2 separate regions of the Homo sapiens genome follow, and region 1 is linked to region 2. Evidence: fine-mapped expression QTL. Tissue or cell type: whole blood. Region 2 holds a variant in brackets; the other region holds the start of a gene. All regions are shown on one strand. Distances are from middle to middle.

Region 1 (8,104 bases), 480 kb before region 2:
AATGAAGCTTTAGGGTGATGAATCAATGTTCCCCAAATTACACAGTTGGTAAATGGCAGAGCCAAAGCTTTTGGAACATACTAAGTTCGAGGTTCTAGGGTCTGAGTTTAAGTCTGCTTTCTCATGAGGTTCCAAGTGATTGGGACACTGCAGTTCTGGAAGAATTCTACTCTCTGAAATCCTTGGAGGATAGCCATGTTTCCAGGAAACTCTTTGTGTGCATAAAAACAGAGATGGACAAAAGTTTAAATGGTGCTAAGTGCTTTGAGTCGGTCCACTCCCTGCTGCAGAAGAATGGCTGATCCACCCATAGATCTGGTGATAGTAACCAGGAGCTCCAGTCAATAGCACAATGGCAGAACTCAGAGCTACAGCCCATCCATTTTTACAAGCGCTCAAGCCATATTATGTAAAGCAGGCGGAAGGGGGCATACACTTTTCTTGAGGATGAAAATGAATGCATTTAGTAATGAAAATGCATAGTGTGGTATTTAAAAATTACATGAGCTCTGGAATCAAATAACAAATGGTTCTGCCTGAGAGACCAGAACACCTTCTTTCACTGATTTTTTTTTCCTTCCCATCCCTGAAACAGAGCCTTGAACTTTGAAACCACAGTACCTTGTTCCAGCGTGGAAAGCAGCGTGGCACTTCCCGGTGGTGAAAGCACCCCAGCTTGAAAGGGTGAAAACACCTTCTCCCAGATAGTCTCCCTTTGTTTAGCCAGTGCTTTTGCCTTAAGGAAATCAAATGAAGGTATGCTCCTTGGTTGGCTGCTGAATCTGTCCTTCCTTGTCAGCTTTGCCCAGAGCAGCAGGCTTTGAGCTCTGGGAGGATTTCCAGGTGGCAGCAGAACAACGGTCCCATAGGCTGGAGCCTGGCACGCTTTCCCTTTTAACCAGTGGCAGAGGCTGCACTTTGCTGGTGTAATTATGCAACCTAGTGTAAAGTCCACATGGGTGGGGATAGGGGGTAGGCAAGGCAGGACTGTAAGCTGGCTCAGCACTCTGATTGGGTTTTTTGACTGTTTTTCTAGCTTTTCTTACCCTTTTCTCTCCTGCCCCCTCATCTCCTCCTCTTCCCTCCTTTTCCCTCCCCTTCTCTCTAATCCCTTCATCTTTGTCAGCCTCCACCCTCAGGGATCCCTAACTCAGGAAGCTACCTCTTATCAAATATTTTGGCTTGCCTCCAACTGCTAGTGGCAGGCAGTTCTGGCCCTTGTCTGCTATCTGAGCGATTTTCTTCTCCACCGGTTGTTTATTTCTCTAATCTAGTTGGAATTGGAATCGTGTGTAGAATCCAGAGGAAGAAAATCCAAAAGCAAAAAATGGATCCTTTCCCTAGTGAGATTGCCCCTGTGGGCTAAAATAGAAATGGAAAGAGACTTGGATTCTTTTCCCTTGAAAAGTGACATTATGAAAGAGCAGGAGAAACAGCATTAGTGTACAGGAAAGCCCAAGGCACACTATATCACTCCTCAGATATTGGACATCACTCTGAGTCCTCTATTTTCTGCTTAATTGGGATTATAAATGCTATTTTTGCCCCGAATGTACCTGCCATCTTGGTCGTGCCCAAGTGGCTCTGAACAGATACCATCTGCAGGACCTCCACAGCCAGCCATGCAACAGGAAGCTGCAGACTCCCAGACTCCAGTGTTCTTGTTTTCTGAGAGGGAGCCCTGAGAATGGTAGAGAAGCAAAAAACACAGGAAAGAAAAGAAAAAAGCTGGATGGAGTAATTACATGATAGGGTTACCTTGTGCACGTGAAAGCAAAATGTAGGGATACAAGCAATAACCCCTCCGGTACTGCACAGTCTTTGATAACACAATAGCCTTCTGTTATTTCAAGGCATGTTCCTTGAAACCTTCCTTAAGGTTTTCCCACTACTTACTGGGTTGTAACATATTTATTTTATATGTCCTTTCTTAACTGATATTCACAAAGAATAGGAATGATAGATGTGTGTATATGAGCAAAAGCATTTATACATGCTTTCTTTTTTTTTTTTTTTTTAGTGTATGAAATAGCGGCTGACTTTTGTGACAATTTTCCACCCAGTTTTGTGATAGTAATTTCGCTGCATTCTTCAACTTAGATGGCAAGTCCTCTTAGCAAGGCTGGCCTAATTCTATGTTTTCTATGGCACCTAGTCACTATGGCTGTGCAAGAGCCATTATTACCCAAAGTACCATAATAATGGTCATGTCCTCCTATGACGTTATTGTTTCCTATCTGTCAGGACATTAATTGTCTTCTAACTTGCTCTAAAATTGGTAGCATGGCACACTGCCAAGACTAGAGAGAAGCAAGCTGCTGGTGATATATTAAAAGGCTGTGTAAAAGGACATATTGGTATTTGCTTTTTCTTGGGGCATCTTCACATTTGCATTACTTCACATGTTATGGGATGTTAGCTCAGGCTTGCCTTATGTCTTGGCGTCTATCTTATCATGGTCAATGTCTGATCTTTCCTTCAGCTGAATGATTCAGACATCTCTAAGTTATTTTGGCTTTTCCACTTTCCTTTCACAGGCTTTTTGTGAGTCATTGAATTGAATGGGAGGTTATTTCTAAATTGGAAGGTGAGGAAGAGAGGAGGGGGAGGAAAGTTCCGGAAAATAACTAGGAAAAGGCACTTTATTGTTATGTATAGTTACTGGAGGAATAATTTCTGCTTAGTCTGGTGATAGAAGTATGTACTTTATTTAAACTTGACTAAAAATATAGGCTAGAAAAAAGACAATATTTTTCTGAATAATAAACCATACAGTTTTAGACTCTTTGTAGCTTGCTCTGCAAAGAACAAGGAGGTTAGTAAATAGAAGAAATATGAGACAAAGGGTTAGCAGAAAGAAGAAAGAGACAAAGCACATTTCCAAAGTCCACATCCTTGAGGTGAATGCCTCCTTGACAGTGTCTTTTTTTTTTTTTTTTTTTAAGACAGAGTCTCACTCTGTTGCCCAGGCTGGAGTGCAGTGGCACCATCTGCAGAGACAGGGGTTTCACCATGTTAGTCAGGCTGGTCTCAAACTCCTGACCTCAGGTGATCTGCCCGGCTCGGCCTCCCAGAGTGCTGGGATAACAGGCATGAGCCACCGCACGGCCTGACAGTGTCTTAAACTATCCCTGGGTGTTGTTTCATGGCCCATGGGTATATGTATCATAGGTGGGGTTGTGAGAAAGTACATTTAAATCTGATTTAGAAACTGAAAGAGTAATCAGACCAGCATTTTGTTATTTAGGAGCAGGAAAAGTGGGTGAAAAAAAAGGAAAAACAAAAAGCTAATGATGAATATATTTCTAGGAGCACAAGAGTTTTTATAGCAACATTAGATTTCTCAAAAATGCCTACTGTGATTTGTACCCAAGTGAATAAAAAATGCAATCATTTATTCTTGTGCATTGTGCCAAGTGAGGAAAAAAAAAAAACACACACACACACAACCCGGCAATTCATTCAATGGCCCTAATTTAGACTGCTAGGAAGAGGTTTAGAAAAAAAAAAGAGAGAGAGAGAGAGAAGCTTTTAAAGTATCTGACACACAGCTAGTAGGGCTATTTAAGAACTGCTGAACAGAAAAACAAAGTGGCAGTGAGAGGTGGGGGAAAGCAGAATTCTCATTTCCAGAGCATCATAAAGGGTATAATGTGGCCCGCTTATTAGAAAGTTGCTGGCCGGGCGCGGTGGCTTACGCCTGTAATACCAGCACTTTGGGAGGCCGAGGCGGGCGGATCACCTGAGGTTGGGAGTTCGAGACTAGCCTGACCAACATGGAGAAACCCCGTCTCATGCCTATAATCCCAGCTACTCGGGAGGCTAAGGCAGAAGAATCGCTTGAACCTGGGAGGCGTAGGTTGCGATGAGCCGAGATAGCACCATTGCACTCCAGCCTGGGCAACAAGAGAGAAACTCCGTCTCACAGAAAAAAAAAAAAAAAAAAAAAGTTGCTAATGGCTGTCTGGTCAATTGGCAGGGGTCAGCCAGGAGTGGATCTGGAAGCTGGAGAACTCTCAATACGCCACTTCAGTTTATTGACGACATTTATAATTGCAACCGAAGTTGACTGATTTCTGCTAAATGAAAGTTTGCGCTTTGCCCTTTAGCATTGAGGCTCCTGGAAAGAACTTCAATGAAATTGGATGCATTGAGACCAAAGAAAAGAAGGGGACATTTTTATCTCTCTGATACCTTTCTCCCCAGGGCTTGGAAACACTTCTTAAACACAACCTCTAATGTTGGTGTTTTGTAAGTACTACCCCTATGAATAAAGCTAGCAGAGATAAGCTTCTCCTTGCAGGAAGTGAGCTGGAGAAGTGGAAAAGTTTACAGAGAAAACTCTACAACAAAGACTTAACCCTTCCCGGGTAACCACGAATGTGAGCGTCTGCCCCTCCTTTGCTTTCTACTGCGCAACCAAACTGTGCACAAGCGTGAATCAACCTTAACCGTCACGTCTCTTGCCAGTTAGCTTAACAGACACTTTTAGCAGCCTATCATAACTTCGAATTGCCCAACCCTCAACCAATTACAACTAAAGCTTGGGCTAGGACGCTCCAGGTCCGGGCGGGGGCGAATACCGGGTTTAGGAAAAGGGGCGGTAAAGAGCGATGACGGGCGGGTATACTAAACCAATCAGAGAGGAGAGCTGCCGCCCCACTATCCAATGGATAGGTTAGAAGTATGAAAGAGGGTGGGCCTGTTGTCATGGGGGAGGTGGTGGCGCTTGGTGGCCACTGGCGGCCGAGGTAGAGGCAGTGGCGCTTGAGTTGGTCGGGGGCAGCGGCAGGTGAGTGCCGGTAACGCGGGTCAGAGATCTGGGGGCCGTCGCGGGGCGGAATCTCCAGCTCAGCACTCCGGAGGCGGAGGCCGGAGGAAGGGGGCCTGGACTTCGGGTCGGGGCCCGGGCCGGGGCCGGGGCCAGGGCGGAGGCGGCGGGGGCGGCGGCGAGTTCGCGCTGACTGGGCTAGGGGGAGAGGGGCTGGGCTTCTGGCTGCGGAGTTCTCCCGAGGAAGGTAGGCTACGGCCGGACCCGCGCGGGTCAGGCCAGGAGGTCCCTTGGGACGTCCAGCTGCTCCGGTCTAGCGCGCTGACCGGCGGCCACTGTGTGAGGAGTAGGTATCTGAGGAAACGGAAGCGGCCAGGGTCCCAGAGAGGGGGTGACCTGTAACGACCTGCTTCAAGGGCGGGGTGTCTTGGGAATACCCAGGACGGCTTGGGTGCCAGGGAGAAAAGGAATCCGGGAAGCCCGGCAGCGGCCGGTGAGGAGAGAGCGGGGTGGGGGGCAGGGGAACTGGGAGTGGCCCCGGTCCGAGGGAGGTAGGAAGGCCGAGGGTGGCCAGGGTCCCGGGTGACAGGGAGCAGACTTGCTCCAAGTAGGGGCGTCTGAGGAAACGCTCGGAGGGGGTTGGGGACCCTCCTGAGAAAAGCGGCTGTCCAAGGGAGGGGGCTCCTGGAGAGATGAGGAGCAGCAGGTCTTCGGAGGGTCGGACGAGTAGAGATCTTGCACCGCCTGGGGGAAGAACCGGAGCTCCCTGCGCCCCCATAGCTGAGCTGGGATGGGAGACCCAACTGGCCTGGCCGCTCCGGCTCTGAGGATCCCTAAGGGACCAGGAAAGAAGTCCTCGAGGAGTGGCTCGCGTTTGAGACCGGGGTGAGGAGCCAGCAGGGGAGTGGAAGTTCCCTCGGTCGGAGAGGAGTCATGCAAAATGGGACGGAGATGGGCGGAGGTGGGAGAGAATCCCTATAGGAGGGGATAAGGTAGAGAAAGAAAGTTGCCCGAGGAGAGAGTAATGGTTTCGTGGAACTGGCTAGGACAGTAGATATATGAGAAATTAACAGTGGAGCCATGTAGGTTCACAGGTCTTCACAAATAGAAGAAACTTCAGTTTCGTAATTAATATCAAGATGACATCTAGGACCAAAGCAAAGCTCCTAAAAGCAAGGTTAAGTGACTTGTTTTAGAAAAGAAATTTGTTTTAGGATGATGGCAGTAATATTAGGAAATAGGTTCATTGACAGGGTGGGGAATTTGGGAGGGAAAAGGGGAGGAGTAGCTGAACTAAAGGAGTAGAAGTAAATACTTATCAGAAAGAGGGTAGGCATACTCGGCTAAAGTGAAAAGAAGTTTTGAGTTCTAGTTCCACCACTTAGCTAAGTTTCTGTGCAGTTTCCTCATCAGAATACTAATAGTAATAGTTCCTACTTTATAAGGTGGTGGTGGTGTTTTTTTTTTCATGTGAGTTGGTATTTGTAGAGCTTTTAGGATAGTGACTGGCACATAGTCGTGTGTACTGGATTGTTCAATAGACGATAAAGACCTGACTTCTTAAATAGAAGGTAAAGACCTGGCTCGCAGATGTTAGCTTGCATCAAAATCACCTGGAGGGCTTGGTAAAATGTAGATTGCTTGGCCCCACCTGGGGGTTTCAGTAGGTCTGGGGTGGGGCCCAATAATTTATATTTATCTCAAATGATGATCACGTTGGTCAGAGGACCACACTTTAAGAACCACTTACTTTAATGAAACCGGTAATAATGGTAGCAACTTTAAAATACCTGCTAAAGAGACAGGTAGAGGCAAATTGCCTAAAAGATCCTATTATAAAGGATACTCATTTTTAGCCTGTGTTTTTCAAACTGTGGATTGTGATTTATTAGTAATTTATAAAATCAATGTTGTGAGTTTTTACCTGCATTGAAAATAAAATGTAGAACAGAATAAACTGACATTGCATTTGGTAAGGAAAAGTATTGTTTTGGGAAACTTTTCTCCTACATGTATGTACTAGGTCACAATGTAAAGTGTATTTCTTTTTTTGAGTTCCTGGCCAAAGGATAAAATATATTTCTTACAGTTAAAAAAGTCTGAAAGCTGGGTGCGGTGGCTCACGCCTATAATCCCAGCACTTTGGGAGGCCAAGGCGGGCGGATCACTTGAGGTCAGGAGTTCAAGATCAGCCTGACCAACATGGTGAGACCCCCATCTTTAAAAAAAATACAAAATTAGCTGGGCGTGGTGGCGCGTGCCTGTAATCCCAGCTACTTGGAAGGCTGAGGCTGGAGAATTGCTTGAACCCCGGAGGTGGAGGTTGCAGTGAGCCGAGATCATGCCATTGCATTCCAGTCTGGGCAACAAGAGTGAAACTCCATCTTAAAAAAAAAAAAAAAGGTTTTTTTGGGAGTATTATATTCCATTAAATTTCTTCAGTTTCTGATTTGGTTCCTCCTGTGTTTGTCTTGTCACATATTGTGTTATGCCTCTGACTCTGGAACTTTTTTGGATATTGAGAATCTTTGGCATGAGAACTTAAGGGAATCTGAGGCAGAGAAATTGAATGGTGTTTCTCAGATGTTGTCCGCTTTTGTTTCACTTGTGCCCTCTTGTTCACCCTTTCTTTTTTATCACTGTACCGTAAAGCATTGTTTGTAAAAGCCTGAGTATACACAGACATATTGACAGTAAACAACACTGAAATGGACTGACTTGAGAAAATTTCATGTATAGAAAATAAGCAAAAACAAAGTAAGAAACACTGCAAAAGAGAAAAATGAAAAGATATTTCCTTTTTAGAGAGTAAAAATATTAAGTATTTCTTATCCTTACACTAATATAAAACATATACAGATATTTTTAAAGGAACTAGATATACAGTTTCTAGGTCTTTGTAGAGAAAAGAAATAGTGGTAATATGTGACAGCAAAATGCACCTGGGATAGAGGCTTAACTACAAAGTAAATCATTTATTAAGAGGGAGCTTTTGTTTAATGGTTTTCTCCCTTGAGAATAAACTGGATGTGGTACATGTTGTAAACTTAACTTGTTTGAGGAACCTAAATGTAATTTACAGCGTGTTTTTAAAAAGAATATGTATGTTTTATCTGTACGTGGTTTGATTTTTCTTCCATTGAAAGCTAGATGGTTTATATTTAGGAGTTGATTTAGATCTGTTTTTATGGCTGTTAAGAACAGGAAGCAGTATTGAAAACTGAAAGAGATCCTTGCAGCTTTCTTTAAAATCTTTAATCCAGGGGATTATGTAACCTCTTCATTAATGTTTTATGAAATTGTGAAGAAACTGTTGGTATAGCTTTGCATCAG
Region 2 (8,104 bases):
TCCAGCCTGGGTCACTGAGTGAGACTCTGTCTCAATAAAAAAGCTGCCTTTTCCCATCAGGTGTCTTCAGAGTGTTCTGTACATATCTTTGAGAAACAGCCTGGAGAGTTATTGATAATTTGGCCAGTTAGGGAGTAGTTAGCCTTAAATTTGAGAGGACCTCTGGGGATGGGATGAAAGAAGCCTAGGGCAAGGGCAGGGCCAGGAGAGGAGGAGGGCAAGGTTGGTTTGTGAAGGGGAGTTGGTGCTGGGCACTTATTCCAGCAGTTCTAGCTGAGTACCTGTTAGGTCCTTTGCTAGGATTTGGAGGAGGATGCAAAGGTAGGAAGCTGCTTTCACAGTATTTATGATCTAGTCCTGGAGATAAAATACAGCAAACCCATAGCTTTGCATCATTGCCTAATTATTTAATACCGAGTTACAGTATTGAGTACAATGGGCTGTCAGAGAAGGCAGAGAGTGATGTGGTTGGAGAGGCTTCATTGGAAGAGGTGAGACCACAAACATCCCTGAAGAATGGGTCTCAGGTAGAAGCAGGAGAGAGAACGCTGTATAGGCTGAAATGTATAGGCCGACTTATAATTCCACTTGCCCTGCTTCTCATTTATTCTCAGCATTTCTATATATTCATTCATATCCTCTTTCAAGATCTTCATGTTTTCAATTTTTTTTTTTTTTGAGACGGAGTCTCACCCTGTCACCCAGGCTGGAGTGCAATGGCGTGATCTTGGCTCACTGTAACGTCCGCCTCCCGGGTTCAAATGATTCTCCTGCCTCAGTCTCCTGAGTAGCTGGGATTACAGGCGCCCGCCACCACGCCCAGCTAATTTTTGTATTTTTAGTAGAGATGGGGTTTCACCATGCTGGACAGGCTGGTCTCGAACTCCTGACCTCGTGATCCACCCACCTTGGCCTCCCAAAATGCTGGGATTACAGGCATGAGCCACCGTGCCTGGCCCCATGTTTTAACTCTTTATCAAAGTACCCCCAAAAAGTATAGGACTTATGCATTATTTGTCAGACCATTTTTTTTGTTGTTTGAAGTCCAGGGTTGCCGCTTGGTCAGCCGTGGCTGACGGATGGTGTTCTATGGCCTCTGCAGTAGCCCTGCAGGACCTGAGTGAGAATGTCCTTGGGTGAGTTGTGTACCTTCAGTTTGACCCACTCCTTGCCACTATTCTGGTCCTACACCTGACCTGACTCAACATTGATATTACGTGCCTTTGTAGGGACTTGAGTTTGCAACTCCTGGTGTTAAGACTGCATTGGACTTTTTAATGATCGCCATTCTAACTGGTGTGAGATGGTATCTCATTGTGGTTTTGATTTGCATTTCTCTGATGGCCAGGAAACAACAGATACTGGAGAGGATGTGGAGAAATAGGAACACTTTTACACTGTTGGTGGGACTGTAAACTAGTTCAACCAGCGTGGCGATTCCTCAAGAATCTAGAACTAGAAATACCATTTGACCCAGCCATCCCATTACTGGGTATATACCCAAAGGATTATAAATCATGCTGCTACAAAGACACATGCACACGTATGTTTATTGCGGCACTATTCACAATAGCAAAGACTTGGAACCAACCCAAATGTCCATCAATGATAGACTGGATTAAGAAAATGTGGCACATATACACCATGGAATACTATGCAGCCATAAAAAAGGATGAGTTCATGTCCTTTGTAGGGACATGGATGAAGCTGGAAACCATCATTCTCAGCAAACTATTGCAAGGACAAAAAACCAAACACCGCATGTTCTCACTTATAGGTGGGAATTGAACAATGAGAACACTTGGACACAGGAAGGGGGGGAACATCACACATCGAGGCCTGTGGTGGGGTGGGGGGGAGGGGGGAAGGATAGCATTAGGAGATACACCTAATGTAAATGACGAGTTAATGGGTGCAGCACACCAACGTGGCACATGTATACGTATGTAACAAACCTGCACGTTGTGCTCATGTACTCTAGAACTTAAAATATAATTAAAAAAAAAAAAAGACTGCATTGGAAACAGGAAAAGGAACCTTGCATAAGAAGTTCTAATTGTTCAGCTGAGCATGGTGGCTTACGTCTGTAATCCCAGCACTTTGTGAGGCCGAGGCGGGTGGATCACCTGAGGCCTGGAGTTCAAGACCAGCCTGGCCAAAATGGTGAAACCTCATTTCTACTAAAAATACAAAAAATTAGCCGGGTGTGGTGGTGGGTGCCTGTAATCCTAGCTACTTGGGAGGCTGAGGCAGGGGAATCTCTTGAACCCAGGGGGCAGAGGTTGTAGTGAGCCAAGATCGTGCCAGTGCACTCCAGCCTGGGCAACAAGAGCAAAACTCCATCTCAAAAAAAAAAAAAGTTCTAATTGTTCTTCGTTTAAAACCTAACCTGCCCTTTTTCCAGATCTCCTTTAAAATTCTCTTCTGCCCGTTTATGGAAGGAAGTAACATATTGTCCTTTTGTTAAGGCTTCTTTCCCTTATTTTCCCTTGGATAATGCCTGGCTTCTTCACACTGGGGCTGGACTGAAAGTTAGAAGCTTGGAGCAGCATGTGCTTAGTGATTTCTAAAGTGTGGAAAGCGCCTTTCTGTAATTAGCCTGAGGAATACTTTCAATATCCAGTAATAAGTGAAGATAGGATTAGGAATGGAAGCTACATTTCAACCTGAAATTTTCAGTTTGCTTTGTGGATATGTTATCTTCTTGGCATTTATTTTGGCCATTTGCTGTCCTTTGGGTAATGTCTGTTTTGGGGGTTGGTAGAGTTGATAAATGACTGGCAAACACTATAATAATTCTTCTTCTTTTTTTTTTTTCTGGTGACATTTTTCCTGCTTTGAGTTTGTCTATGGTCTAGTAAACTCCAAGTAAGTGCCTGTGGTTATAGCTGGGATAGAAGCCCGGGAAACTCACAGATCACATCTGGGCTCTGCCTGTGGCTTAAAGAGGAGCCATCCTCGTGAGTCTTGGTTTCTTGGTTCCAGCCTCACATAGATGAAATGGGCATTCATCATTATTTGTGGTGGTCTTGAATAAAAGACTGAGTGGTGTGAGGTGTTTATAACCTGCAAGGCAATTAGGGGAGAACAGTAACTTTGCTTATCTTGACCTCTTGGGGAATGGGCTGGTTCTTTCCAAGGTTTCCCATGGTAAGGACTGATGTGAGTGGGGTCAGGAAGGTCAAGGGTAATGAGCAGAAGTTACTGGATTTCTTCTGTGCCTGTGTTGCTTGTACGGTGCCTGCAGTGGGGGGCCAAAGTGCGGAGCTCTCTACTGAGTGCCATCATATGTCACCTTCCCTCCTTGGCAGGCACTAAGTGACCGCTTCAGCGGTGAGATCCCCGATGACCAGATGGCGCACAGCTCCTTTTTTCCAGATGAGTATTTCACCTGCTCCTCCTTGTGCCTCAGCTGTGGGTAAGTAAGGCCGCTCCCCCACCTCCCACCCCATACCTTGAGAATAGAGCCTTTGAGTGGTGCTTCCTAGACTTTGGTGTGGATGCAGATCCCCTGGGATCTTGCTAAATTACAGGTTCTGATTTAAATTATCCAAAATGGTACACTCCCATGTTCCCACAAGATCCTGGTGGTCTAGGAACCACACTTCTGAGGTAGCAAGAGCTTGAAGGACACATGGTGGTGAAGAATCTCCTGGAAATTCCAGCTGGTATAGATGTGAAATTGACCAGCTTCTGGTTTGGGAGGTTTTTAGGGCAGAAGACTTTGGGTTGCCTGCTTTTCTGTGTTTTTTCTACCAGAGTTTCCAGTCACTTATTCATAGTATTCTAAGTATTCAAGTGATATTTGAGTGCCCCCCCTGTGCAAAACACTATGGGTCGGTATTGATTCCAGGTGATTCCTTTCACTATTAGGGGAAATGTTTAGAGCACATTAGAATTTTCTGGGGAGCTTTCAAAATTATTTATGCCAGGGCACCACCTTCTGGGATTCTAATTAACGGGTCGTGTGTAGGACCTCTGCATTGCTATGTTTAAGATGCTCCTCAGAGGATTCTAAAGTGCAGCCCGAGCTGAGGACATTGAGTTGGGACAGTGCTTCCGAAACTTCAATTGTGTATGCATCACCTTGAGATTCTGTTAGAATGCAGATTCGGAATCAGGTCTGGGTGAAACCTGAGATTCTGCATTTCTGTCAAGCTCCCGGGCAATGGCTGTGCCTTTGGTTTGTGGACCGCACTTTGTTATGGTTAGAGCAGTGATCCGCAAATTTTAGCATGCATCAGAAAAACCTGAAGGGCAGGATCACTGGGTGCCCCCTCCACAGTTTCTAATTCAGTAGGTCTGAGATAGGGCCTGGGAGTTTGCATTTTAATAAATTTAATAAATTCTCGGCCGGGCACGGTGGCTTACGCCTGTAATCCCAGCACTTGGGGAGGCCGAGGCAGGTGGATCACGAGGTCAGCAGATCGAGACTATGGTGAAACCCTGTCTCTACTAAAAATACAAAAAAATTAGCCTGGCACGGTGGCCGGCGCCTGTAGTCCCAGCTACTCGGGAGGCTGAGGCAGGAGAATGGCGTGAACCCGGGAGGCGGAGCCCGCAGTGAGCTGAGATTGCGCCACTGCACTCCAGCCTGGGCGACAGAGTGAGACTCTTTCTCAAAATAAATAAATAAATAAATAAATAAATAAATAAATAAATAAATAAATTAATTAATTC[T/ATTCT]CAGGTGATGCTGATGTTCATGGGGACCACCCTTTGAGGATCACTGGATTAGTTTGAACTGTTGATGGCTGTTAAATCAGTGTGGTGACTTGTCTGATGGGCCCCAGGGGATTTAAATGCAGTGTGTCGAGGTCAGATGGCAGCCTCCATGTCCTGTAGACAATCCCTTCCACTCTTCACTACCAAATTGTCTTTGCTTCTACCAGAACCACCCTGTCCTGCACACTTCTCCTTTTACAGGAGTAGACCTGACCTACATCTGTTATGAATGGTCATTTCACTTTGAGTCCTGTAGGCCACCTGCTGCATGCAGAACCACCTCTGACCTTGCCGAGAAAAAGACCTGCTTCTTGGATTATACAGCCTGGGCAAGGGAGAACTAAGGATTATCTTGGAGAGTTCAGTTTGGAAAGGGGAGAGGGATGTTAGTTGACAGTGTGACTTACCTTCCTTTTTGCATGCCCCATGAGCCCAGCACAAGAGACTTAAGCACTGTTGGATCATTGCTTTCCCATTGTGAGCCTCCCCAGGATTTCTGGAACTTTCCCTTTTATCATAGTGAAATTCTAAAGTCCTGATCTCTGTTTTTGCATTATCAGGATGGCAGAGCTCATTGTTCATTTGGAAGGCTTGTTCAGCCTAAGCCTCCCCTTAATGCATTGCCAAATTTTGGGGTTGGTTTTCATTTTGCATCTTGGCAGCCTGTTCTGGGTAAACGTTCCATTTCATCTTGTTTGGATTTTTTGAGTCTTCTGAGAGACGTTCAGGTTTCCTCTCTGGTCAAGTTGGTATCTTATGGCTCCTCCATTTCTGCTGAGGGGACAGGTAGTTTTTCCAACAAGGGATTTCTGGGTGTATTTTTTTTTTTTTTTTTAAAGACAGAGTCTCGCTGTTGCCCAGGCTGGAGTATAGCGGTGTGATCTTGGCTTACTGCAACCTCCGCCTCCTGGATTCAAGTGATTCTCCTGCCTCAGCCTCCTGAGTAGCTGGGATTACAGGCATGAGCCACTATGCCTGGCTAATTTTTTTGTATTTTTAGTAGAGACGGGGTTTCTCCATGTTGGTCAGGCTGGTCTTGAACTCACTGCAACCTCCACCTCCTGGGTTCAAGCGATTCTCCTGCCTCAGCCTCCCGAGTACCTGGGACTATGGGTGCCCGCCACCATGCCCGGCTAAGTTTTGTATTTTTGGTAGAGTCGATGTTTCACCATGTTGGCTAGGCTGGTCTTGAACTTCTGACCTGAAGTGATCTGCCCCCGTCGGCCTCCCAAAGTACTGGGATTACAGACGTGAGCCACCGTGCCCGGCTGAGATTTCTTTTTCCCCTGTGTCCTCATACAAGGATAGTAGTCGCTGTGCCTCTGTAGTGCTGTTGATTGCAAGTGTAACAAAGAGGCATGTGGGTTTCCGGCTACCCTTTCTGTGTTCAGCATCTGAGGCCCAGTTAGTAATCAAGGTCTGGTCGTGGCCTTGTGCCTGGCTCAGGGTCAGGCTGTTCTGTGTAAGTGGCACTGGCTCCTTTAGCCGTCTCATTGTCAGTCTTTGGGCTTCATTCAGGGTTGGATGTAAGAAAAGCATGAATCATGGGAAGGAAGGAGTGCCTCATGAAGCCAAGAGCCGCTGCAGATACTCCCACCAGTATGACAACCGAGTGTATACCTGCAAGGTGAGTCCTCCGAGCTCCTCCCTGTGTCAGCAGCGGGCTTGCTGACCACTCTCTCTTTGGCAAGACTATCTTGGGGCCATTTTTTGCTGCATGCTGAAGTATTTGATATTCAAATTGAATATTTCTGGAACTTCTCTCCAGCTCTAACAAAAAGCACTCACATGTCTTCATTGGTGAGGGTCCCTTTGTTTACTGTTTTAAGCTTATTTTCTTCTCATTCTGTTGAGCTTGTATGTAAGGGTAATTTATATCGAACATTCATTCTTTTTTTTTTTTTTTTTTTTTTTTTTTTTTGAGACAGAGTCTTGCTCTGTCAGCCAGGCTGGAGTGCAGTGGCACAATCTTGGCTTACTGCAACCTCCACCTCCTGGGCTGCAGCAATTCTCCTGCCTGAGCCTCCTGAGTAGCTGGGATTACAGATGTGTGCCACCATGCCCAGCTAATTTTTGTATTTTTAGTAGAGACAGGGTTTCACCATGTTGGCCAGGCTGATCTCGAACTCCTGAGATCGGGCAGATTGCTTGAGCCCAGGAGTTCACAACCAGCCTGGGCTGGTAAAACCCCGTGTCTATTAAAAAAACAAACAAAAAACAAACAATAAGCTAGCAGAGTGTTTCCTGTTTCAGGCCTGCTATGAGAGAGGCGAGGAAGTCAGTGTAGTGCCCAAAACATCTGCTTCCACTGACTCCCCCTGGATGGGTCTCGCAAAATATGCCTGGTCTGGGTGAGTTTAAACAACATGGCTCAAGGTTTTCTGGTGCGTTTGTCTCCCCAGGCACCTGGCTGGGTAACAGTATTGATTTGCTTTCCTTGTAGGTATGTGATCGAATGTCCTAACTGTGGCGTGGTCTATCGTAGTCGGCAGTACTGGTTTGGAAACCAAGATCCTGTGGATACGGTGGTGCGGACAGAGATTGTGCATGTGTGGCCTGGAGTAAGAACTGTTGGATTTCTCTGTTTTTCTTTATCTTGTGTCGTTCAGTTTTTCATGTGTATAGAAAACTGGAACCTGCTTAAAATTAAGGTTAACCATGAATTTCAGAATGTTGGCGGTTTAGAAAGGCATGATCTGGAGAGCTTTTTTGTTCTCTAGACCAAAATTGTTTTTATTTTTTCTTGCATATATATTAGAAGTACAACTTTAAATGAAATAAACTAAAAATCTATAGTTTTACTCCTTTGGCAAATAAAACGTTTTTGCATGTTCTACTCATTCATTTTCTATATGTGTATGTTTTTCTAGATGCAAATATTTACATGCCTTTTTCCTGCTTTTTTTCCTCACAATGCTATTTTATTTAGTTTTATTTCCACCTTTTTAAAAAGATCATTAAAATGCTAGTCACCATCTTCGTGTAAGAAAGCCATTTTTTTGTTATAGGAAATTTTCTTGAAGTATATTCTAAGAAGTGGGATTCCTATAGACGCTTAATCTTTTTTTTTTTGAGACGGAGTTTCGCTCTTGTTCCCCAGGCTGAAGTGCAATGGTGAGATCTTGGCTCTCTTGGCTCACTGCAATCTCCACCTCCCGGGTTCAAGTGATTCTCCTGCCTCAGCTTCCCGAGTAGCTGGGATTACAGGCACGACCGCCACGCCCGGCTAATTTTGTATTTTCAGTAAAGACAGGGTTTCTCCATGTTGGTCAGGCTGGTTTCAAACTCCCGACCTCAGGTGACCTGCCCACCTCGGCCTCCCAAAGGGCTGGGATTATGGGCGTGAGCCACCGCGCCCAGTTTAATGATTATTTTTTAACTTTTG

Evidence for each region. PIP is the estimated chance that this variant, and not a neighbour inherited with it, causes the effect.
Region 1: NUMB starts here. The variant in region 2 is fine-mapped to the expression of NUMB in whole blood (INTERVAL, PIP above 0.99).

The regions. Positions count from the first base shown.
Region 1 is chr14:73,455,181-73,463,284 of GRCh38, reverse strand. It overlaps NUMB (NUMB endocytic adaptor protein), which reads left to right and starts at 4,739. Exons shown (of 13, transcript NM_001005743.2): 1 at 4,739-4,792. It overlaps LOC101928143 (a long non-coding RNA gene), which reads left to right. Exons shown (of 3, transcript NR_135251.1): 2 at 596-756; 3 at 2,021-2,350. RefSeq lists enhancers at 3,343-3,876, 3,877-4,410 and silencers at 4,396-4,595, 4,786-4,875, 4,886-5,015.
Region 2 is chr14:72,977,103-72,985,206 of GRCh38, reverse strand. ZFYVE1 (zinc finger FYVE-type containing 1) reads left to right here. Exons shown (of 12, transcript NM_021260.4): 5 at 3,312-3,418; 6 at 6,238-6,346; 7 at 6,973-7,070; 8 at 7,163-7,280. Among named protein-coding and RNA genes, the nearest start is that of TRC-GCA8-1, 18 kb to the right of the region's middle. The variant T/ATTCT (reference allele first, on the strand shown) is at 4,681.